Homo sapiens: one gene and its partners. The protein of the gene in region 7 interacts with the protein of the main gene of each other region in a pairwise test. Each region holds a gene or a part of one and is shown on either strand. Other genes may lie near its edges. The genes, in order: TTC28, CXXC5, APPL2, MGAT5B, ARMCX4, EFNA1 and HUNK.

Region 1 (4,148 bases), on a different chromosome or scaffold from region 7:
TACTGTACCTTCTCTATGTTCAGGTACACAAGTACTTACATTGTGTTATAATTGCCTATAGTATATTCAGTAAAGTATCAGGCTGTAGAGGTGTGTAGCCTAGGAGCAATAGGCTACGCCATACAGCCTAGGTGTGTAGTAGGCTATACAAGGCTATACAAGGTTTGTGTAAATGCACTTTGCTGTTTGCACAATGACGCAATCACCTAAGGAGGCATTTCTCAGAACCATCCCGTGATTAAGAGAGGCATGATCGTACAGTCATCATCTCCCTGAAAGCTCAGTCAACCCTGTGCAGTGCTACTGCCACACTCCCCTTTTGCACATGTAGAAATCAAGGATCTTTGGCTCCTCTGAGTGACTTGTTCAAGGTTTCTCAGTTTTCAAGAGATGGAGGCGGGACTTGAATTGAGATTTCCCTTTCTTGAGAACCTGTGGTCCTTAACCATTAAAACCACTTAAGAGGTCTTCTCTCTTGATCACTACCTACTAAGTGCTAGGCGCGGTGCTGAGGCTTTCTCTTATTATTATATTGAGTCCTTATATTTAGGAGAAACAGGCCGTGCGCGGTGGCTCACACCTGTAATCTCAGCACTTTGGGAGGCCGAGGCGGGAGGATCACGAGGTCAGGAGATAAAGACCATCCTGGCTAACATGGTGAAACCCCATCTCTACTAAAAATACAAAAATTAGCCGGGCGTGGTGGCCGGCGCCTGTAGTCCCAGCTACTGGGGAGGCTGAGGCAGGAGAATGGCATGAACCCGGGAGGCGGAGCTCGCAGTGAGCTGAGATCGCGCCACAGCACTCCAGCCTGCGTGACAGACCAAGACTCCGTCTCAAAAAAGAAAAAAAAAAAAGATTTAGGAGAAACAAGTCCCGAAGCCCTGACCCTAACACGCAAGGGTTAGTGGAGATGTGGGACTTGAACTCAGCTTCTCCGTTGAGTCTGGCTGTCTCCGGGACGCAGGCACGTGCTTGCACACCTCCACGATGGCGATCCCGCCCCCTTAGTAGCGTCCTTAACTCGACACTTCTTGCGGGGAAGTTCCTCTTGGCCCAGACCGTCGTCCCAGGCCCCGCGTCGTGGGGGAAGCGAAAGCGGCAGTGTGGGGAAATGGCCGAGGGGTCGGGTCCGGGGTGGTCTGCAGAGAGGCAGGCGGCGGTGCGGAGCCGGGAACCGCGCGCTCACCCGCCGAGTCCGACGGGCCCGGCGGGGGTGGGCGAGACACTGGGAACAGCGGCCAGCTCCAGAGGGCGCGAGGCGGGGCGCGCGGGGAGGGGGCGCGGCGAACGCGCGCGTGCGCGGTGCATGTGTGGGCCCGCGGGGGCGCGCGCGCGGTTTGGGGGCAGTGAGGGGCGCCGCGGCGGCGCGCAGCACGGCGGGAACATGGCGCGCGGAACCGGCGCGCGCGCCTAGCTGGCGGGACCGTTAGCTCGAGGCGGACGCGGCCCGGGCCCCGTGGGGATGGAGCAGTCGCCGCCGCCGGCGCCCGAGCCGACCCAAGGGCCGACCCCCGCAAGGAGCCGAAGGCGGCGGGAGCCAGAGTCGCCGCCGGCGTCGGCGCCGGTGAGTGCGTGAGGGGCTCGGGCCGGGAGACTTTCTTTGTGAAACTCCGGCGGTGGGAGCCGGGCCGGGCCTCAGCGGCAGAGGAGCGCCTGCGAGGCGGAAGGCGTCTCGCAGTCCGGGTTCGATCCCAGCCGCGAGCCGTGAGGCGGCGGGACCTGGTCCGCCGCCTGCCTGGCTCAGTTTCCGCGAGAGTGTGTGTGGATGTGTGTGGGTGTGTGAGGGTGTGTATGGGTGTTGGCCTGCGCACACCGGGGTGGGGGGTGTCGGTATACAGTCAGCGCCTAATGCGCCCAGCGCCTCCCCTTTTCCCCCAGCCCCCGTGGGGCGGAATCTGGGGACTGGAGTCCACCGGAGCGGTAAGCGGCACCCGCGGTGAGACAGGTGTCGGCGCAGCCCGGGATGCTCAGGTGCTACCTTTCCGGGGTGGGGTTTGTGAGGAGTGAGCTCTTCGTCCCCGGAGGCGAGCAAGTCTGTCGGTGGCTCATCAAAGAGCGTTGTTTTGAAAAGCGTTCCACCCACCTCAGCTTCGTGCTGTGTTTGGGCCACTAGTCAGGGGGAAGGATGCTGAGCGACATGGACTTTAGAGGTGGGGCTCCCGCTGGACGGGATGTCTCTGGGCTCTCGAGCTTACCCCCACCCTTGCCTCCCAAACCCGTTAGAGCGTAGGAATCATTGGGAGCACCTGATCAAAATGCCACGGACTGTGGCTCACCACAGCAGGGAAGCCGATTTTGAACTTAAACAAGCTCCGAAGTTGTGATCAGGCGAGCTTGGCAAGCACTGTTTTAGAGAGTAGGCTTCCTGCAAGCAGGAGCCGGTTTTGTGTATACCTCACCATGGCATCTTGGTACCTGGCATGGTGCCTGACACACTGTAGATGATCAGAAAATATCTGTAGAAAGTCTAAATTATTAGGGAGAGTGCAGCATAGGAGTTCTTGAGACATTTTCAGGAGCTTCTTGAGATTAATATCTCAGATTTATTTTACAGTATATGATTTTTCTCAGCTCCCAACTTTGTGATTGTGTTCAATGCCATGTTTTCAGTATGTTTTAGGCAAAAGCAGGGTACATGTTGCTTAGTATACACTATCCACTAGGCCGGGTGCGGTGGCTCACTCCTGTAATCTCAGCACTTTGGGAGGCAGATTGCTTGAGCCCAGGGGCTTGAGGCTGTAGTGAGCCAAGGAGTTAGAGACCAGTGTGGGAAACATAGCGAGACTCGTTCGTCTCCGCAAAAATTAGCTGGGTGTGGTAGAGTGCACTTGCAGTCTCAGCTACTCTGGAGGCTGAGGTGGGAGGATCGCTTGAGCTCAGGAAGTACAAGTTGCAGTGAGCCAAGGTTGTGCCACTGCATTCCAGCCTGGATAACACAATGAAACCCAGTCTCTTAAATAAGTAAATAAATACATAAATGATTATGTATACTCCAGCTAGGTTAAAATTAATTCTGAATCAAAATTCTAAATTAAAATATGCATGTTTCTTTCTCTTCATCATTTGGGAACACTAGGCTTTTAGGATTTCATTCCATTGGGGCAGGTAAATATCTACATTTATGACAAAGCAAATATGAATTACTGTTAATTCAAGAAAGGTGGGAATTTGCTTAAACCTGAGTATTTGTAGTCTTTGTGATTTTTTAAATTTTTAATTTAAATTTTCTTCTTTTTCTTTTTTTTTTTGAGACGGAGCCTCACTCTGTCTTCCAGGCTGGAGTGCAGTAGCACAATCTCAGGTCACTGCAACCTCCACCTCCCGAATTCAAGCGATTCCCCTGCCTCAGCCTCTGGTGTAGCTGGCATTACAAGTATGTGCCACCATGCCCAGCTAATTTATGTATTTTTAGTAGAGAGGAGGTTTCACTGTGTTGCCCAGGCTGGTCCCAAACTCCTTGACCTCAAGTGATCTGCCCACCTTGGCCTCCCAAAGTGCTGAGATTACAGGTGTGAGCCACGGCACCTGGCCTTATTTTTATTTTTTTGAGACAGAGTCTCAGTCTGTTGCCCAGGTTGGAGTGCTGTGGCATGATCTCCGCTCACTGCAACCTCCACCTCCCAGATTCCAGCGATTCTAATGCCTCAGCCTCTTGAGTAGCTGGGGTTACTAGACCCGGCTAATTTTTGTTGTATTATTTTAGTAGAGACTGGGTTTCCCTATGTTGGCCAGGCTGCTCTGGAACTCCTGGCCTCTGGTGATCCACCTGCCTCGTCTTCCCAAAGTGCTGGAATTACAGGCGTGAGCCACTGCCCCCAGCCAATCTTTGTGATATTTTGAAATTGAGGTTTATATTTTGTTCAGAGTCAAAGCTAAAATAGAATTGTTTGAAAATTAATATTTCAGGAACTATTTTTTAATTAAATTGAATTTTATTTTATTGGTTTCATTTCAGTAGGGTTTTAACTTAATATATATGTGTGTATATATATATATATATATATATATATTTTTTTTTTTTTTTTTTCCTGAGATGGAGTCTTGCTCTGTCACCCAGGCTGGAGTGCAATGGCATGATCTTGGCCTCACTGCAGCCTCCACCCTCCTGGCTCAAGCAATTCTCCTGCCTTAGCCTCCCAAGTAGC
Region 2 (2,517 bases), on a different chromosome or scaffold from region 7:
GCCAGGGTGTGCACAAGCATGTCCTCTCACTGTGGCAGGGGACGGCTGGTCCTCTGGCCCTGTGCTGCTCGCCCTGTAGCAGGCGGGGAGAAGATCCCTGAAATAAGGGTTCTGCACTCATTGGCAAACTGGGTTACACAAAGGCAACCAGGTTCCTTTGCCTGCAGGACATGTCAGAGCCTTGAAATAACTGATGTGTATTAGTAATCCCCAGATGAGGATCCAGGGGCAGCCTTCCAGACTTAATGATCTGTACCATCAAGCACTCTTCTCCTCAGATGGAGAAGGAAGATTAGGATGTGGAGGTGGTTTTTTTCTTATTTTTATTTTTTTGACAGGATCTCACTCTGTCATCCAGGCTGGAATGCAGTGGCATGATTATAACTCACTGCATCCTCAACCTCCTGGGCTCAAGCAGTCCTCCCACCTCAGCCTCCTGAGTAGCTAGGACTACAGGCATGTACCACCACACCTGGTTAACTTTTGTATTTTTTGCAGAGATAGAGTTTCACCATGTTGTCCAGGGTGGTCTCAAAACTCCTGAGCTCAAGCGATCTGCCTGCCTCTGCTTCCCAAAGTGCTGAGATTACAGGTGTGAGCCACTGCACCCAGCTAATAAGCATCTCCAACACTCTCCCACCCCAGCACAAGAAGGACTGCCTGCTTCTGGCAGGTCTTCCTAGACCCTAGCAGAGCAGATTTGGGCTGTGGAGGCCTGGACTAGGGCCTCCACCATGCCGCTTGGTGGCTGTGTGTTCATAGACTGGTAGTTCTCCTAAATCTTGTTTCCCTCATCTATAAAGTAGATTACCAGCCACTGCTTCTAGAGTTCTTGTGGGTCTTAACTGAGATAGTACAAATAAGAAATTTCTCACCAGGATGGATCTGGTGCTTAATAAATGCCTGGTCAAGCACATGGTGGTCAGGATGACAGGACCGTTGATAGTGGCGGTGGTGGCGATGTTGAAGGGGGAGGTGTTCACTGCTGCCCTGACCCTGTATCCTCTTGTGACAGAGTGAAGACATTTCCACCTGGACACCTGACCATGTGCCTGCCCTGAGCAGCGAGGCCCACCAGGCATCTCTGTTGTGGGCAGCAGGGCCAGGTCCTGGTCTGTGGACCCTCGGCAGTTGGCAGGCTCCCTCTGCAGTGGGGTCTGGGCCTCGGCCCCACCATGTCGAGCCTCGGCGGTGGCTCCCAGGATGCCGGCGGCAGTAGCAGCAGCAGCACCAATGGCAGCGGTGGCAGTGGCAGCAGTGGCCCAAAGGCAGGAGCAGCAGACAAGAGTGCAGTGGTGGCTGCCGCCGCACCAGCCTCAGTGGCAGATGACACACCACCCCCCGAGCGTCGGAACAAGAGCGGTATCATCAGTGAGCCCCTCAACAAGAGCCTGCGCCGCTCCCGCCCGCTCTCCCACTACTCTTCTTTTGGCAGCAGTGGTGGTAGTGGCGGTGGCAGCATGATGGGCGGAGAGTCTGCTGACAAGGCCACTGCGGCTGCAGCCGCTGCCTCCCTGTTGGCCAATGGGCATGACCTGGCGGCGGCCATGGCGGTGGACAAAAGCAACCCTACCTCAAAGCACAAAAGTGGTGCTGTGGCCAGCCTGCTGAGCAAGGCAGAGCGGGCCACGGAGCTGGCAGCCGAGGGACAGCTGACGCTGCAGCAGTTTGCGCAGTCCACAGAGATGCTGAAGCGCGTGGTGCAGGAGCATCTCCCGCTGATGAGCGAGGCGGGTGCTGGCCTGCCTGACATGGAGGCTGTGGCAGGTGCCGAAGCCCTCAATGGCCAGTCCGACTTCCCCTACCTGGGCGCTTTCCCCATCAACCCAGGCCTCTTCATTATGACCCCGGCAGGTGTGTTCCTGGCCGAGAGCGCGCTGCACATGGCGGGCCTGGCTGAGTACCCCATGCAGGGAGAGCTGGCCTCTGCCATCAGCTCCGGCAAGAAGAAGCGGAAACGCTGCGGCATGTGCGCGCCCTGCCGGCGGCGCATCAACTGCGAGCAGTGCAGCAGTTGTAGGAATCGAAAGACTGGCCATCAGATTTGCAAATTCAGAAAATGTGAGGAACTCAAAAAGAAGCCTTCCGCTGCTCTGGAGGTAACGGCGCCTTAGAGGGAGGTGTGTGGGCTCTTGTGTCTGTCTGGCAGTCCAAACCCACCCCCATCCCCTGACCCCACTTTTCCTACCTGGGCAAGTGTCTGGGGGATGCCCCCTCCCAGTCCTTGGGGCCTGGGGGTCTGGCTTCAAGACACCAGTTTACTGCCCCAAAAGTCAGAGCCACATTCTGAGAATCCTATCAGGCCATAATTTGCAAGGCAAGCATAAAACTCCAGGCAAGGACCTAGCATTCTCAGCCAGGCCCTGGGATTCTGATTCCTCTCCTGGGTTCTGGGTCAGGTATTGAGATTTCCATACAGGTCCTAAGTTTCTGATGCTCAGACATGGCCTAAAGCATCCAGTCCATGACCTAGAACTCTGGGTCTCTCCCCTGCCCTGTTTAAGGGATTCTGTTTCA
Region 3 (2,187 bases), on a different chromosome or scaffold from region 7:
ATTCTTGTGCCTCAGTCTCCCGAGTAGCTGGGACTACAGGTGTGCACCACCACACCCGGCTAATTTTTGTATTTTTAGTAGAGATGGGGTTTCACCATGTTGGCCAGGCTGGTCTTGAACTCCTGACCTCAGGTGATCCTCCTGCCTCTGCCTCCCAAAGTGCTGGGATTACAGGCATAAGCCACCATGCCTGGCCTGCTTTTGTCTTATGATAGCAGAGTTGAATCTGTTGCAAGGGAGATAGCCAAAAACATAAAGACCCTTTATAGAAAAAGTTTGCCAACTTTTGACCAATACCATTAAATACTAGCTTACAGTGCTTGCCACTATTTCATGTATGTGGCCTTAGTCCTTGGTCTTTCTGACCTCTCCAAGACTGAACTGCACTAATATGGTAGCCACTGGCTACATGTTACTATGTAAATTTGAGTTAAATTTAAAAATCCAGTTCCTCAGTCACACTTGCCATATTCAATCTGCATATTAAATTGTGCAGATATAAATCATTTCCATTATTGCAGAAAGTTCTGTACATTGCTGAACTAGAAGCCCCCTGGGGGCAGGGACTATATCTGTCTTGTTCAATTACACAAACTAGGCTCTCAAAAATTTGCTGAATGAACAAAAGATTAAAAGCTGCTGAAAGACAGGGAGGTCTCAGAATCCTCATTTCTTAAAAGCTCCCAGGTGACGTCTGTCAATGCTGTGGGGCATGTGATCATACTCTGAGGAGCAAGGCCTTAGAGCAGCACACGGTGGGTACTTATCTATCATCTTAATCTGAAAGAGGAAATCTAGCCAACTAGTATGCAAGCAAGAAAACAGATAAGCAGGAGCTCCAGCAGTGATAAGAAGTCCTCATGTGTTAACAGTGAACATGGAACTAGCTGATCAAAAACCTCTGGTGGTTAGAATACTTTTAAAAGGAAATCCCAAACTTGGCCACACTTTCCAGTGAACATCACTTTTCTTTTTGAAAAGACTCTTGGTATGTGTACACAGATGTGTTTTGAGTAGCTACTAAACCAGCGCTAGAATGCATCTTACCTTCTGAACCTCAATAATTTCTTTTCCCAAATTAATAGCATAACATATCTGCAAAAGACAAGAAAAGTAGTGATTGGCAAAAGTAGAGAAGGATAAAATTTTAGAACAAATGTGATTTGGGAGTACAGTGAGGTCACTGTTCTCACTGTTCCCACTTGGGAACACAGGACCTGGCTGCAGGAGACTCATCACATAGGGCCCGGGGCATTTGCGTCCAACTGTCCTGACCTCTGTTGCCAATTTATGCCACACAAAAAATATTCCAGGTAAGTGAAACTCAGGTAATTCCAGTGTTAAAAGTTCTTAATAGGAATTTTTCTTCTCTCTCTTAAATGTATTTAGCCACGATATGTCCATATACACAGTGGCAAACAGATAATTTACTGAAAGGATTGGTTAATTGTGATAAATTCTAAGTAGCAGATAGAGTCAAAAGTTTTTCATACTAAACCAACAGCTTGTGTGTAACTTTTCTAATATCTTCCTTGGTTTTCTCTCTGAGACTAAATTATTCTCTATTGTAGCTTTTGCCTTAATTTTTTTTAAAGAACAAATTTGAGGGGAACTGCTTTCAACATTTCCTTATATCCCGACTAAATAATATGTCTTGCCATGAAATTTCTTCCTCATTCACCCTATTCTGGTTGATAGGTATTTTCCACAGAGAAATTTAAATCGAGTTTTCTTTCAGTGAGGCCTTCTTAGGAGGTATTATCTGAACTCCTGGATGGAGACATGCAGAATAATCAACTAAATATCCAAGGAAGTAATGCCAGAAAACTCTTTTAAAATGGACTTGTTTGGACTGGGATATTATGGGATCTTCACATGAAAAAGAGACCTTTTCGCCTTCTGAGTTGCTTTCAAAAATGTATGTACTCAGAGATTCTTCTCCAGTGGATTCAGGAACACGGATGACAAAACCAACCAGTCTCTTGTTTTCTTGATGAGCAGCAAATTGTGTGACACTGGTAAGTTCAAACTGGGGGGTGGAAAAAAAGGCAACAGATCATACAACTACTAGAATTAAAAACTGACAAGGCTACTCTCTGGAAAAGTCATGAGAAAAAGTATCCTATTAGTCCTATTAGTGGCAGATCTTTATTAATAAAGTGCCTAGGCTGTGTTTAAGGTAGATAC
Region 4 (3,500 bases), on a different chromosome or scaffold from region 7:
GCATCAGGCACAAGCCCCTCCTCACTCTCACCCAGCCCACACATGTGCACCTACACACACCAGCACCCACGTTCGCTGGAGACCCAGGGTGTTCTGCCCCCTTGCTACTCGAAGCGTTGCCCCGCATTAACAGACGCTCTGTATGCACATTATATTTTGAAATGTGCTGTGTAAAGGCTGCAAAGCCACACCTGCAGCAGTTTCAAGAACCTCCACACATCCATCGTGAAAACATTCAGTTAGCACCTGGCCCTCAAAAGTGCTCCATAAACAATTTGAGATCCAGGGCTGCCATGTAAGGTTGTGCAGGTTGCTCACTGCACAAAGGCATTCCCCACACATCACACCTGAGTAGATGAATGGGATCCCCCATTCCATTCTCCAATCCACATGCCCTGGCTCAGGGCTGTGTCTGACCAGGGGAGGGATGGACACCTTTGCCAACCCAGGCCTGCAAGTCTGAACTCACCCAGAGGGGGGCACCGTTTTCTAATCAGAGTGAAGACCAGCAGTGTGGACTAGTGGGGGGTCTCAACTGTATGTGGCTGCTCTCACCTGAGTTCTCATAATGGCCTTGATGGCTGCTTCAAACTCCTCTGAGTTGTTGTAGTCGACTGTCCACACGTGGGGCTTGCCGATGAAGTTCTCCGCGTAGGGATGCTGGGAGAACACCTGGCAAGGGTACAGAGATTGCAGATGCCCCCCGTGCCTGCCAGTGGGACAGGGACAAAGAAAGGTACCCCATACACTTGTCCTATCTCCTTTTGCCCCACATCTCAGTCTGCCTCTTCCAGGACCTGCAGGGGTCTCTGTCCCGGCCCCTCCTGATCGGGGACCAGGATGCTTTCCACTCACCTCTCTGGAGGTGGGCTTGCCTCGGAAGAACTCGTGGTTGAGGGAGCTGTGGGGCGGGCTGAAGCGGGACTGCAGGAAGATGCAACCATTGGCGATGGCCTCCAGGGGGGCGGGGCCCTCGTAGGGGAAGCCAAACCCGATGAAGAGCTGCAGAGTCAAGGGGCGCAGTGATCAGGGAGGGCTGGGCCGCCACAGCCCAGTAAGCACCAGGATGCCGGGGACAAGGTGAGGCTTCGGGATATTCACAGGAGGCAGCTGGGCCTGGAGCGATTATTTTTGCTCAGCCTGTTATGTGAGCTATAACAGGGCTGGAAAAGCCAGCCCAGAACATCTTGTGCCACGGGCAAGCACTTCCCCTCTCTGGGCCTCAGTTTCCCCATTTGTGAAATAAGGGGGTCTAATTAGGTATTATCAATGGTCTCTTCTTGCTCTATCAGGCTATGATTTATGATTGTGGAGGGAGGAAGAAAAGAACAAGGGTTTCAGGCCAAGAAAGCTGCAGGCCCGCACCTGCAAGAGACCTCCAGGAACCTCACTCACTCATCCCAAAAACATTTATTCAGCATCTAACTTGTGTGAGGCTATTTACAACAGCAAAGACATGGAACCAACGGAGGTGCCCATTAACGGTGGCTTGGATAAAGAAAGTATGGTACATAGACACCATAAGATACTACGCAGACATAAAAAAAAACAAAATCATGTCCTTTTCAGCAATATGGATACAGCAGGAGGCCAATATCCTAAGTGAATTAAAGCTGGAACAGAAACCAAATACCGCATATTCTCACTTATAAGTGGGAGCTGAACATTGGGTACTTATGGGCATAAAGATGGCAACAACAGACACCTGGGGACTCCCAGAGTGGGGAGGAGGAAGGGGGTAAAGACGGAAGAATTAACTACTGGGTACTATCCTCACTACCTGGGTGACAAGATCCTTCATATCACAAACCTCAGCATTATGCAATATACCCAGGTACCAAGCCTGCATATGTACCCCTTAAACCTAAAATAAAAGTTGAAAAAAAATTTTGAGACGGAGTCTTGCTCTGTCACCAGGCTGGAGTGCGGTGGCACCATCTCATCTCACTGCAACCTCTGCCTCCCGGGTTCAAGCAATTCCCCTGTCTCACCCTCCTGAGTAGCCAGGACTACAGGCGCCCGCCACCACACCCAGCTGATTTTTTGTTTGTTTGTTTGTTTGTATTTTAGTAGAGACAGGGTTTCACCATGTTGGCCAGGATGGTCTCGATATCCTAACCTCGTGATCCGCCCACCTCGGCCTCCCAAAGTGTTGGGATTACAGGTGTGAGCCACCGCACCTGGCCAAAATTATTATTTTTTAAGTAACTTGTGCTAGGAGTGCACAGGGCTGGCCTCAAAGGCACTTAATAAATGATTCTGAATCCAGGGCTGTTCTGTGAGGTTGTTCAGGTTATTCACTGCATGCAAGCATCTCCACTGCCCCCAACACACACACACACACACACACACACACACACACACACACACACACCCCCAAGATGCCTTGGGAAACAAGCTATGGTGAGATCAAGAGAGGGCCTGGGGCCAGGTGCAGTGGCTCACATCTGTAATCCCAGCACTTTGAGAGGCCGAGGTGGTAGGATCGCTTAAGCCCAGGAGATTGACACCAGCCTGGGCAATGTAGGAAGACACCATCTCTACAAAAAATTTAAAAATTAGCCAGGTGTGGTGGTGTATGCCAATAGTCCCAGCTACTCGGGAGGTGGAGGTGAGGGGACTGTGTGAGCCTAGGAATATAAGGTTGCAGTGGGCCCTGATTGCACCACTGCACTCCAGCGTGGGTGACAGAGCAAGACCCTGTCTCATAAAAAAGAGGGTGAGGGGGTGCCTAGAAGCTGGCTGGAGACTCTCCAGCCTCAGCTGATACTCCAGGGTCCAGTCAGGGTTTTGCCCACTGTGTCAACTGCTGCTCCAGCAGTACAGCTCAGGGACCCCTGAAGCAGTCACTCAGGACTAGTGGCTCAATGGCACTCTAGCCAGGACCCTTCTCTCCACCCACCCAACCACCCCCCAGCTCAGTGTCTCCAAAAGCTAGGCCTGACCCAGGAGTCCATTTGGCTGGACTGGTACTGCAAGGGGGAGGATGGGCAGTCCAACTCTACTTCCCCATCACTGAGCCACGGCTCTGCTGCTCTGCTGGCCCTGCCCAGGTCCCTTTCTCTATAGGACCTCTCCTGCCTGGTGGGCACCCACATCTCTGCCCCTGGGCTCTGGCCAGATGTGGGGCTCAGGGCAGCAGAGCATGCTGGGGTATGTCCATATGTGGAAGGGGCCTGAGTGGTGGTGGCAGGCATGGGTGGTGACCTCAGTGTCTGCAGCCGGCAAGTGTGAGAATGGTGCGGGGGATGGGAGCTCACTTTGGCCTTGCGCAGCAGCTGCTGAAACTCAGGCTGCGGTAAGAGGCCGTGGTTCTTCACAAAGGCTGGCACCTCGGGGGGCCGCTGGCTCTCGTAGTACACGGTGCCATGGATCTCCATGTATTTGTTCAGGATGCCCAGGAACTTCTCCTTCCCCTGGAAAAAGAAGAGGAGGAGATGGGAACCACATGCAAACCACAGAAGGCAAAGTCCATGGAGGAGATCCCTTTGGTCTGGAAG
Region 5 (3,500 bases), on a different chromosome or scaffold from region 7:
GTCTCCATCCATGGTCTGAAACCTAAATTTGATCCACCGCTCAGCAGCAATCCAGTCTTCAACACCAATCCCATTCCAGTAGTAGTCATGGATGTTAGGCTGAGTCTTTCTGCAGGCTTGAGTGCCTGACCCACCCTCACTCTCAGAAGTGGGCATGGCCTCAGCCTCAGGCTTTGCATAGGCCTCATCTTCTGCTGTGGCTTCTGCCTCAGAAGTGGACATAGACTTGTCCCTTGCCCCAGGCAAGGTCTCACCCTGGGAACCGGCCACAATCTGAGGCTGGGCAGAGTGCCTTGTGCCTGCCCCAGTCCCTGCTTTAGGCACAGCAATGGTATTGCCCTTGACCTTATTCCTGGCACCAAGCAAGGTCTCACTCTGGGAATTAGCGACAGCTTGGGGCTGGGCAGAGCCCACTGTATCTGCCCCAGCCTCTGCCTTAGGCACAGCATTGGAATTGCCCCTGACCTTATTTTTGGCCCCAGGCAAGACCTCACCCTGAAAACTGGCCACAACCTGGACCTGGACAGAGCCCATTATGCCTGCCCCAGCCTCTGCCTTAGAAATAGCATTGGAATTGCCCTTGACCTTATTCCTGGCACCAGGCAAGGTCTCACGCTGGGAGTTGGCCACAACCTGAGGCTGGGCAGAGCCCATTGTATCTTCTCTGGCCCCTGCCTTAGACACAACATTGGAATTGCCCTTGACCTTATTCCTGGCACCAGGCAAGGTCTCACGCTGGGAGCTGGCCAAAACCTGAGGCTGGGTAGAGCCCACTGTATCTTCTCTGGCCCCTGCCTTAGACACGACATTGGGATTGCCCTTGACCTTATTCTTGGCACCAGGCAAGACTTCACCCTGGGAATTGGCCACAGCCTGGGGCTGGGCAGAGCCCCTTGTATCCATCCCAGCCCCTGCCTTAGACACAGCATTCCAATTTCCCCTGACCTTATTCTTGGCACCAGGCAAGGTCTCACAATGGGAATTAGCCACAGCCTGGGGCTGGACAGAGCCTGTTGCACCCATCCCAGCTTCTGCCTTAGACACAGCATTAAGATTGGCCTTGACCTTATTTTTGGCACCAGGCAAGACCTCACCCTGAGAATTGGCCACAGCCTGGAGCCGGGCAGAGTCTGTTGTATATGGCCCAACCCCTGAATTAGGCACAGTAGTGGGATTGCCTCTGATCTTATTCTTGGCACCAGGCAAGACCTCACCCTGGGAATTGGCCACAATCTGGGGCTGGACAGAGCCTGTTGTATCTGTCCCAGCCCCTGCCTTAGACACAGCATTGGAATTACCCTTGACCTTATTCTTAGAATCAAGCAAGGCCTCACCCTTGGAACTGGCCATAATCTGAAGCTGGGCAGTGCCCATTGCACCTTCCCCAACTTCTGCCTTAAGCACAACATTGGGATTACCCTTAACTTTATTCTTGGTGCCAAGCAAGGCCTCACCCTGGAAACTGACCACTGCCTCAGGCTGGGCAGAGTCTGTTGTACCTTCTCCAGCCCCCACCTTAAGCACAGTATGGGGATTGCCCTTGACTTTATTCTTGGCACCAGGCAAGGCCTCACCCTGGGGATTGGCCACAACCAGGGGCTGACCACAGACCCTCTGGTCTGCCTTAGTCCCGGCTTTAGAAGTGGCATTAGGATTGCCCCTACCATCAACCCTGGAATCAAGCAAGGCCTCAGCTGGGGTCTTGACCCCAGCCTGAGGTTGTGTACAGGTTTTCATGTCCATCCCAGGCCCTGTCTTACACTTGGCTTTGGCTTTGCCCCTAGCCTTACCTCTAGTATTAGGTAAGGCTTCACCCTGGCTCTGGGCCATACCTTGAGCCTTCATATCCACCCCAGCTCCTTCCTTAGGCATGGTATTGACATTGCCCCTGACCTTAATTTTGCCATCAGACAAGGTATCAGCCTGAACACTGGCCACAAGCTGAGGCTGTGTACAGGACAACATGTCTGTCCCATCCCCCACCTTAGCCATAACATTGGGATTGCCTCTGCTCTTATCCCTGGCATCAGGCAAGGCCTCAACCTGGGAATTGGCCCTCAAGTTTGCCTTGGCCCCTGCTTTAGTCATGGCATTGGGATTGCCTCTGTTCTTAACCTTAGCATCAGACATGGCCTCAGCGTGAGTACTGGCAACAGCTTGAGGCTGAGCAGCAGCTCTCATGTCAGCTCCAGTTATTGCCTTAGATATGACATTGGTATTTCCCCTACCATCAACCCTGGCACCAGACGTCACCTCAGCCTGTTTCTTGGCCACAGTCTGAGGTTGTATACAAGCTCTCACATCTGCCCCTGCCCCCACCTTACACATGGCATTGGTGTTACCCCCGGCATCAATCTTTGCCCCAGGAATGGCCTCAGTCTGGGTTTTGGCAAAAATTTGAGGCTGAGCAGAAGCCCTCGTGTCTGCCCCAGACTCTGCCCTAGACATGGTTTTACAATTCCCCATGTCCTCAACCCCAGTACCAGGCATGTCATCACCCTGGATCTTGGTCACAGCCTGAGACTGTGCACAGGACTTCATGTCCACTCCAGCCACCTCCCTGGACATGCCATTGGGATTTCCCCTAGCATCAACTGTGGCACCAGGCCTGGCCTCAGACTGAGTCTTAGCCACACTCACAGTCTCTTCCAGAGCTCTTGTCTTGGTTTCATCCACAATTCCAGTCTTGTTCGTGGCCCCCATCTTGGCCACTTCCCTGGGTACTGCCAAGGTCTCACTCTGTGTAACCATTACTCTGTTAATCTCTGTCTCTTTTTCAGCCAATATATGAGTTTCAGCTTTGGTCTGGGTCATTGCTTCTCTCTTGGCCTCTGTCTTGGCAACCAGCGCCCAAGCTTTAGCCTTGGTCTGTGTCACTGCTTCTTTCTTAACTATTTTGCCAGCCTCAGCATCAGTTTGGGTCACTGCTTCTTTCATGGCCACTTCCCTGGCTTTGGCCTTGACCTCAGTCAGAGTCACTGCCTCTGTCATGACCAGTGTTCCAGCCACCACTTTGGACTCAGATTGAGTCTCTGGCTCTGCCCCAACCATTGCCTTGGCCTGAGAGTTGGCTCTGTGTATGGCTATAGCAGTGGCCTTGGTCTCTACTTCAGCCCTAGGCCCACTTCTTGCTCCAGTTTCTGCTCCAATCTCGACTTGGGGTTTAGTCTTAATCTCTGCTTCATTTATGGCCAAGGTCTGGCTCTGTACCCCAACCACAGTCTCCATCTTAACTGTGGATCCATTTCTGGCAAGAGTCCTCACACTCTGGGCTCTTCCCTTGGTAAATTTGTAAATGTAGTAGCAGGTGCCAGCCCAGATCACCAGTCCTGCAGTCACCCAGCCCACTTCCTGAATGCGGCCCATGTAATCACCCCTGCTAAAAGCACGAACAAGGTATGGTAGAGCGCACTCGGGCTGGGGTAAAGAGAGTGGTAGTTGTGGGTGTAGGCCTGTGAGGGTGCTGGTCTTCAGCCACTCAAAGGCCACTACAGCTGCCT
Region 6 (4,228 bases), on a different chromosome or scaffold from region 7:
TCCCGTTCTAGCTACTCAAAGTTATACACTGGTCTCCTTTTCCCCTTCTCAGAGCACCCCAAAACAACCCTGTCCTTTTATCTCTAAAAGCCACACTTCCACCTCCCCCTAGATGAAATGCTGGAGCTCTGAGCTTGAGCTTGAGACAGCCTCTCCCCTCTCCCCTCTCTCCCCTCTCTCCTCCTCTCCCCCTCTCCCCTCCTCTCCCCTCCTCCCAAGGTGGAGCCAGCACCCCTCCCCTAGTTCATTCCCCCTGGCCCCACCGGCTCCAGCCTGACTGCCCACCAGCCCCTCCCCACCAGCTCCAGACACCTGGCTCCAGCCTGGGTGGGGTCCCAGTAGGGGGAAAAGTGCTTCCCCCGACCCCGCAAGCTGGTCAGTTTCTCTAATTCCCCCAGGCACTGCCAGCTAGAGACCCAGCAGAATTAGCGCTAAGTTGCTTCGAACTGAAAGCCCTGGCCACGGCTGGGAGGGCGAGGAAGGAGTCAGGCAGAGAGGACTCGGAGGTGGGCACCCACTGCCCAATCAGCATGACCCCTGAGAGGCCAGGCTTTGCAGCAGCGTGCCAGCGCCCAAACTGGGCTTACCAGGCCCCTCCCCCACCCTGGGGAAAAGAGAGGAGCAGAGAGAGGCTTTTAAAATTCCTCTCTGGAGAGATAAACATAGAAGCCATTTCAGAACAGGTATTTCAGCTCTGGGCCTGGCGTCTTTCCCTCATTCCCGTGACGGGCACTGACTCATTCCTCATCCACCTCTGCTACCCGCCCCAGCACTCATGAGAACTTGTGAAAACTTACCTTGTCAAATGTGCACAGCCCCCAGGACCCCAGGAGGGCACAGCGCCCACTCACCCCCAACAGTGTCCTCCAAACAAAGGGAGCTGGCAGGTCAGAATGAGGGGCCTGCCCTCCAGCATGAGGGAGGCTGGCGCCCTTCTCAGCATGCTGCCCCCGCCTGAGGCCTGGAGATCCCAGGGCTGCTGCCCACTGGCCTGAGTCACCCATGCCAGCCTCACCTACCCCGTTCATTGTAGCCTCATATTTGCCCCCACGCTGGGCCCAGCTTGGCTGCCTACGGACTCTACTCTGGACTGGCGTCTCTTTAGTCCTGGGTATGATAGGGTGTGCGTGTGTGTGTGTGTGTGTGTGTGTGTGTGTGTGTGGCCAGAGGGTCACCCATCAGCCCCCTCTCCTGGGGGTACAGTCTGCTGTACTTAGCCTTCATTTGACTCTTGCTCCCCATCTGGGAAAGGGGGGCAGCGGCGTCAGGGAAGGCGGGGAGGTGGGTAAGGAAGAGGCTCCTTCCTGAAAGAGAGGAAACCTGGGAGCTTGGGAACGGAAAAGGCCAGGGTCCCCCCCTCCCTACTCATGGCTTCCTGTCCCCTCCTCCTCCTCCAGTCAACACCTGGCATGGGCATAAACAGGGACTTTGCTCTCTCCCATACTAGGGCGAGATGCATCAGGTCAAGGAGGCAAAGCACAGGGAGCGGGTGGCGGAGGGCTGGCTGAGCCTCCCCAGCGTCCATGGGCAGGAGGGCATTGCCCTCTGGGGTTGGCAGCTGGCTGTTCTCTCCCCCACCCTAACAAGCCACAGACAACAGACTGCCTCACCAGACGATGACACGGGGTCAGAGGAAGCTGGCACAACATATTTCTCAAGGGGAGTGGGGGGCAAGCTTGCTAGGGCCGAGAGTGGCTAAGCCGGTGAGATGGCTTTCGTGATACCAAGCTGCCCACTTCTCTCCCTGCTCCTCCCTACCACCCTCTCCTGTATTCCCTCAAATATTGTTCCCATAACTTCAGAAAACTCAAGGGCAAGAACAAAGGGGCCGACAGAGTCTTCCTCCCAGTACCATTTGCCTCACAGCCCTAAACCTGCCCAGGAGAAATTAACTCCTTCCTGCCCAGAACCTTCTGTAACCCCTTTAACCTCTTCTGTTCATTCTGAAGCTTTCCCATGATCTCCCTCTCCCAGCTCTTCGCTTTTACTACTTGAGAGCCCCATAAACAGGTGATTCCCTCAGCCTACCCATGCACAGCATGTGCCTCACTCATGCCACCCCAAAAGACCCCTAGTGAGGGACTTTCCAGGTTTGCTTTAAATACAGGGTGAATGCATAATGAATGCCTACAGCCCAGCTCTCTCCTGAGAGGTCCTTCCAGGGTTACCTTGAGCATTCTGTGCACTCTTGATGTCACACCAGGTATCTGTCAGTGTGGTCAGATACCCAAAGGACACACAAGGAGAGGCGTGGAGGCTTTCACAGTGGGGGGGTGGGGGGCCTGGAACAAGGGCCCTGGCTGCCAGGGGCGAAGTCTATGCTGAAGGCAGGAACTGCCCAGCATGAGTCCCTCACTTTAGAGTAATAGGGGTGCCAGAGAGAAGGAAGGGAAGGGCAGATATAAGCCCATGCAAGTAGACACAAGCATGCCCCGGGGTGGGGTGCTCCCAGATATGACGGAGAAGTGAGGGGAGGAAAATCTACAGCCGCCCTCCTACCTCGGTCATCTACTCTAGGCTCAGCTCAGGGTTTGGCCGGGACAGTTATCCCGGTGGGGTAGTGCCAGCCGGGAGCCCAGGCTGCCAGCGGGAGTCTCGAGGCTTACTTGGGATTTGAACTGTTCCAGAAGACGGTGTGGCGATCAGCAGCGGCCAGACTGCAGCACAGACCCAAGAGAGGGGCCCAGAGGAACTCCATAGCGCGGGGCCTGGCCAGGCCGAGCGGGGACGCGGGTCTCCTATGGGTCTGGGTTCCCACTGGCTTTCTCCGCGGCGCAGTCAGCGCTGGGCTCACAGATCTGGCCCCTTCGCCTAGCGACTCCGCCTTTTGGGCCGGCGCCGCCCGACACCCCGCCCCGCCCTCGCCCCGCCCGGCGCGCGGCTGCCTGGGGGCTTGGGGGCTGGGGAGGTGGAGGAGGGGCGGGGTGGGGAGGCGAGGAGGCTGGGGGTGCAGGAAAGAGCGAAGCGCGCTCCTCTGCCCCCGCAGATCTGCTCAGAGATGTGTGTTCGCTCACTTGTGGGTCTGCGTGGAGCTTTGTGAGCCTGTCCCGGTGGTGGGCTTGCGTCCCTGGGCGCAGTCGCGTGCGGGAGAAGGGAAGAACTCGCAAGTGCGAGTCTGCGAACGCGGGGGTGCGGGACACGGCTTTGCTGCTCCGCGCGCGGACCTTGCAGGGTGCGAGGTTGTTGACATGCCCCGCACCTTTCTGAGCCTCGCATGCCCAGGCTCGGGCGCCCGCGTTCCCACACTCTCCTCCTCCCCCATCCCCTTCCCGGACTCTGCGCTTGACTGCCCCTCCCCACACACACGCGGCTGTTTGTTTTTGTTGGGTTTGTCAATGTTGTCTTTGTTCTGGAGATTGTGTCATCGCCTAGATGCCGGGAATAAAGTGCAACGCTTTGTGTGATCGAGTGTGTAACGTGTGCGGCCGGGGCTAAGGACGCCTCTGTCCATCACATCAGTGCCTGCCCGCAGGAGCGACACGCGGGACCCTGGGCTCGAGAGGGGGCCGTTCTTATTTTAGATAAGTCAAAGAGCGCTAATAACCTGAGTATATGTAACAACACACGCGTACACCGTGCGAACAGGCTCTTGAATATGGACTGTGAGAATCTGGGCATGAAGGGTGACAAACTGTAACCACACATGAAATACGTGTGATGGCGCGCTAGCATGAAAGCATTTGTGAGTAGTATCACAGCCGCGTGTGTGGAAGCGTGTGAAACTCTTTGACAGACGTATGCTAATGTTTGTGAACAGCGTGTGAAGAGGAGGGGAGACGCGTACCGGCGTGCAGCGGGGGTGGGGTGGAACGGAGGGGCGTTTGTGCGCAGTCCTCAGGCTGCACAGCTGGAGCTGGCCCAGTCTGAGCTGGGGCTCCCAGTCAGTCGGGCCCCAGTACCCGGCTCAGGCCCCCTCCCCCGCGCTGTGTAAACAAACCCACTGGAATTTGCCTCTCGGGGCTCTTCTCCCCGCCTGGATCTGCTGCCGTCTGGAGAGGGCTTGGCGGGCGGGTGTCAGCTCCTGGGGTGGAGAGGGCGGGCAGGTGTTTGATTAGGCTCACGAGTGAGCCTGGAGTGGGAGAGCCGAATGCTGTGTGTCTGCGTGCGTTTGGTGGTTTACGTGTGTGGTTGTGTGGCTGTGTGCGCGCCAGGTTGGTGTTGTGAGTGTGTGTGCGCATCCTCAGCCGGCCCTTCCCTGCGGCTGCGCATCGCGGGAAGCCACGGACCC
Region 7 (2,545 bases):
GCCGTGCCTTCCTGTGCTGGAGCAGCCAAAGACGTTTCATTTTGAGGGGACACAGCCACAAGTTGGATGTAGCCTGGATCCCTGAGTCACCATATGGAAGACAGCCGTTTTGTGGTCAGCCCAGCCTCATAAAAATATTTTAAGAAATAAACCTTTATTGGGCAAGTCACAGAGATTTGGAATTAATTTGTGATCATAGCAAAGCCTAATCTTCTAGCATACTGGTTGCCAGAGGAGGTGAGCACTGAACACTGATGAAGGAGTCAGGGGAAGGCATTCTCATCTCAGATCTGCCAAGAACTTCACTGCCCTACTTTCGGCAAGAAGACTTGTTCCCAATATAGGCTTGCAATTTGCCCTTTCCAGCTGGCTATGGTAACAAGACTAGAAAGAACACATTTTTAAAAAAAATTATAGAGTTTAAATGTAAACCAAAGCCTTTGCTTTCAAAATTGCTAATAGCCCATCTTCCAAGTAGGAAATACAAAGAGCTGAGGCCCTGAAGTCAGACCCATTTATTTTTTTCACCTGTAAATGATACAGCTTCCTGTGCCATCTTTAAGTTTTAAACCACTCAACTCCAATTGATCCTCAAGTTTGCTCCACATAAAGCTATTCTATCCTTCCAAAATTGGTTGCCCCAAATGCCTCATTATTGGAACACCACCAGCTCAGATGTGGATACATGTGGAGGGGGACTGCAAATCCTGAAATGCTCCTCACCTTCTCTTCCAAAGCCTCCTCAGCTTTCTCCCCCAACCTCAGTCCCTTAGTGCCCACAGACGTCAACTCCTAGAGATAACTGTGTGTCACAAAAACATGTCCACAGAGAAGAAGTACAAATATATATCCTATTTGTCTTTGCAACCAGATGTCTGGAAAGCTCCCTTAACAGAAAAGCTGCCACAAATAATATACTCATTTACTACTCAGGAAATGCACTCCCTTCATTGAAAAGTGATGACATGAAATTGAACCAACTCCCAGTACCGCTCTGAATTATTCTTACTGTGCCTGTAGCTCACAGAAGACCCCACAAAGAAAATAAATACACTAACCAACAGGCTTCCAGACTCCCCCAAAAGATAGCAGTTTTGCATTCTTTCTGAATTTGCTTCAGTGTATGATATGGCTCTATAGGAAATGTTTTATTGATTTAATCTAGTAAAACCCAATAGCCTCTTAATACCTAAAGTAGATAACAAGGCTATCCAGGGGTTTGCTGCTTACTTGGGAAGTCAACTGAGAAAGACAGAGTTCCCAAAGAAAGCTGTCTTTCCCCAGCTTCAAGAGTGGATGGGACAAACAGCATAAGGTTCAGGAAGCTGCACAGTTTTGAAAAGGACTTAAAAATGCAAGACCTAGTCCCTGCAGGAACTTCAGAAATACCTGTTGTGATGACGGCTTGATCTGTTGTTGACATCCCCCTCTGACCATGGCAGCCACTCTCTGATTTCTCTGTGTTCTTTGAGGGAGAAACTCTGCTCCAGACCAGCTCAAATGCCAGCTCATCTGGGGACTCTGGGGTGTCCTTAAACCATCTGGGTCCCTAGTTTTCCCTTCTTCAGAAAGGCTGGGGCTGAGCCAGAGAATCTTAGGTCCTTTTCTATTCTAAAGTGTTGGGATTCTTACAAGAAAACATTGTCATCAAAACTAGATACTTGTTCTTTTCCCCGGAATCCGACTACTGGGGCTTTGCACAGTGAACAGTGAGCTTCTCCACTTTCTAGCTATGTCACCCTCTAAGGCTTCGTCCCCTCACTTCCCAGGGGAAACAAGGTGGTATATATGAAAAACGTTTTGTGAACAGTTATGAAGGAAGCAGTAACTGGGACAATTTCAAGAGGTCATCTAGATCCCACCCTCCCATTCCATCCCATCATCCCTCTTCCCCTATCCATGACCAAGGCCTCCTACAAGGACAAAATCTAGAAGTCACGTTCATAACTGCCATTCTTTGTGTGCCATTTTCAGAGTCTCCAAGGAAGATCCTAATATCCCCAAATGAAAAAGGTTGATTCTTCTTGAACTGCCACCTGCAGTGTGTATGTCAGAAAGACTTTTGTAGGCACACCTATTGCAGGTAAAATAAGGCAGGGAAACTGGCCCAGAAAATGCCCCCCAATGCAATTCCCGCTTGTTTCCAGTCAGATGCTAGGTCAAGAGCTTTACATAAGGCCAGGCACAGTGGCTCACGCCTGTAATCTCAGCACTTTGGGAGGCCAAGGTGGGCAGATCGTTGGAGCCCAGGAGTTTGAGATCAGCCTGAGCAACATGGCGAAACCCCATTTCTACAAAATACAAAAAAAATTAGCTAGGCATTGTGGTGCACAACTGTAGTCCCAGCTACTTGGGAGGCTGAGATGGGAGGATCACTTGAATCTGGAGAGGTTGAGGCTGCAGTGAACTGTGATTGTGCCACTGCACTCCAGCCTGGGTGACAGAGCAAGACCCTGTCTCAAAAAAAGAAAAAGAACTTCACATAAAAGATGGTACCTGTACTATTATTTGCAACGTACTTAGTTGTTTTAAGATTTATCAGCAA

The links.
Region 1: the proteins of HUNK (region 7) and TTC28 interact in a two-hybrid assay, tested with the Homo sapiens proteins (one large-scale study listed by BioGRID and IntAct).
Region 2: the proteins of HUNK (region 7) and CXXC5 interact in a two-hybrid assay, tested with the Homo sapiens proteins (one large-scale study listed by BioGRID and IntAct).
Region 3: the proteins of HUNK (region 7) and APPL2 interact in a two-hybrid assay, tested with the Homo sapiens proteins (one large-scale study listed by BioGRID and IntAct).
Region 4: the proteins of HUNK (region 7) and MGAT5B interact in a two-hybrid assay, tested with the Homo sapiens proteins (one large-scale study listed by BioGRID and IntAct).
Region 5: the proteins of HUNK (region 7) and ARMCX4 interact in a two-hybrid assay, tested with the Homo sapiens proteins (one large-scale study listed by BioGRID and IntAct).
Region 6: the proteins of HUNK (region 7) and EFNA1 interact in a two-hybrid assay, tested with the Homo sapiens proteins (one large-scale study listed by BioGRID and IntAct).

Annotation. Positions count from the first base shown.
Region 1 is NC_000022.11:28,677,041-28,681,188, reverse strand, and holds the start of TTC28 (tetratricopeptide repeat protein 28), read left to right. Parts: upstream 1-1,348; 5' UTR 1,349-1,465; coding exon 1,466-1,567; intron 1,568-4,148. UniProt on the Homo sapiens protein: During mitosis, may be involved in the condensation of spindle midzone microtubules, leading to the formation of midbody.
Region 2 is NC_000005.10:139,679,349-139,681,865, forward strand, and holds part of CXXC5 (CXXC-type zinc finger protein 5), read left to right. Parts: intron 1-498; exon of another isoform or gene 499-592; intron 593-1,015; 5' UTR 1,016-1,175; coding exon 1,176-2,099; intron 2,100-2,517. UniProt on the Homo sapiens protein: May indirectly participate in activation of the NF-kappa-B and MAPK pathways. Acts as a mediator of BMP4-mediated modulation of canonical Wnt signaling activity in neural stem cells.
Region 3 is NC_000012.12:105,174,988-105,177,174, forward strand, and holds part of APPL2 (DCC-interacting protein 13-beta), read right to left. Parts: intron 2,030-2,187; coding exon 1,889-2,029; intron 1,096-1,888; coding exon 1,048-1,095; intron 1-1,047. UniProt on the Homo sapiens protein: Multifunctional adapter protein that binds to various membrane receptors, nuclear factors and signaling proteins to regulate many processes, such as cell proliferation, immune response, endosomal trafficking and cell metabolism.
Region 4 is NC_000017.11:76,937,904-76,941,403, reverse strand, and holds part of MGAT5B (alpha-1,6-mannosylglycoprotein 6-beta-N-acetylglucosaminyltransferase B), read right to left. Parts: intron 3,417-3,500; coding exon 3,261-3,416; intron 1,003-3,260; coding exon 856-1,002; intron 673-855; coding exon 556-672; intron 1-555. UniProt on the Homo sapiens protein: Glycosyltransferase that acts on alpha-linked mannose of N-glycans and O-mannosyl glycans.
Region 5 is NC_000023.11:101,488,456-101,491,955, reverse strand, and holds part of ARMCX4 (armadillo repeat-containing X-linked protein 4), read right to left. Parts: 5' UTR 3,367-3,500; coding exon 1-3,366.
Region 6 is NC_000001.11:155,126,448-155,130,675, reverse strand, and holds the start of EFNA1 (ephrin-A1 isoform a precursor), read right to left. Parts: upstream 2,801-4,228; 5' UTR 2,699-2,800; coding exon 2,607-2,698; intron 1-2,606. UniProt on the Homo sapiens protein: Cell surface GPI-bound ligand for Eph receptors, a family of receptor tyrosine kinases which are crucial for migration, repulsion and adhesion during neuronal, vascular and epithelial development.
Region 7 is NC_000021.9:32,002,020-32,004,564, reverse strand, and holds the end of HUNK (hormonally up-regulated neu tumor-associated kinase), read right to left. Parts: 3' UTR 501-2,545; downstream 1-500.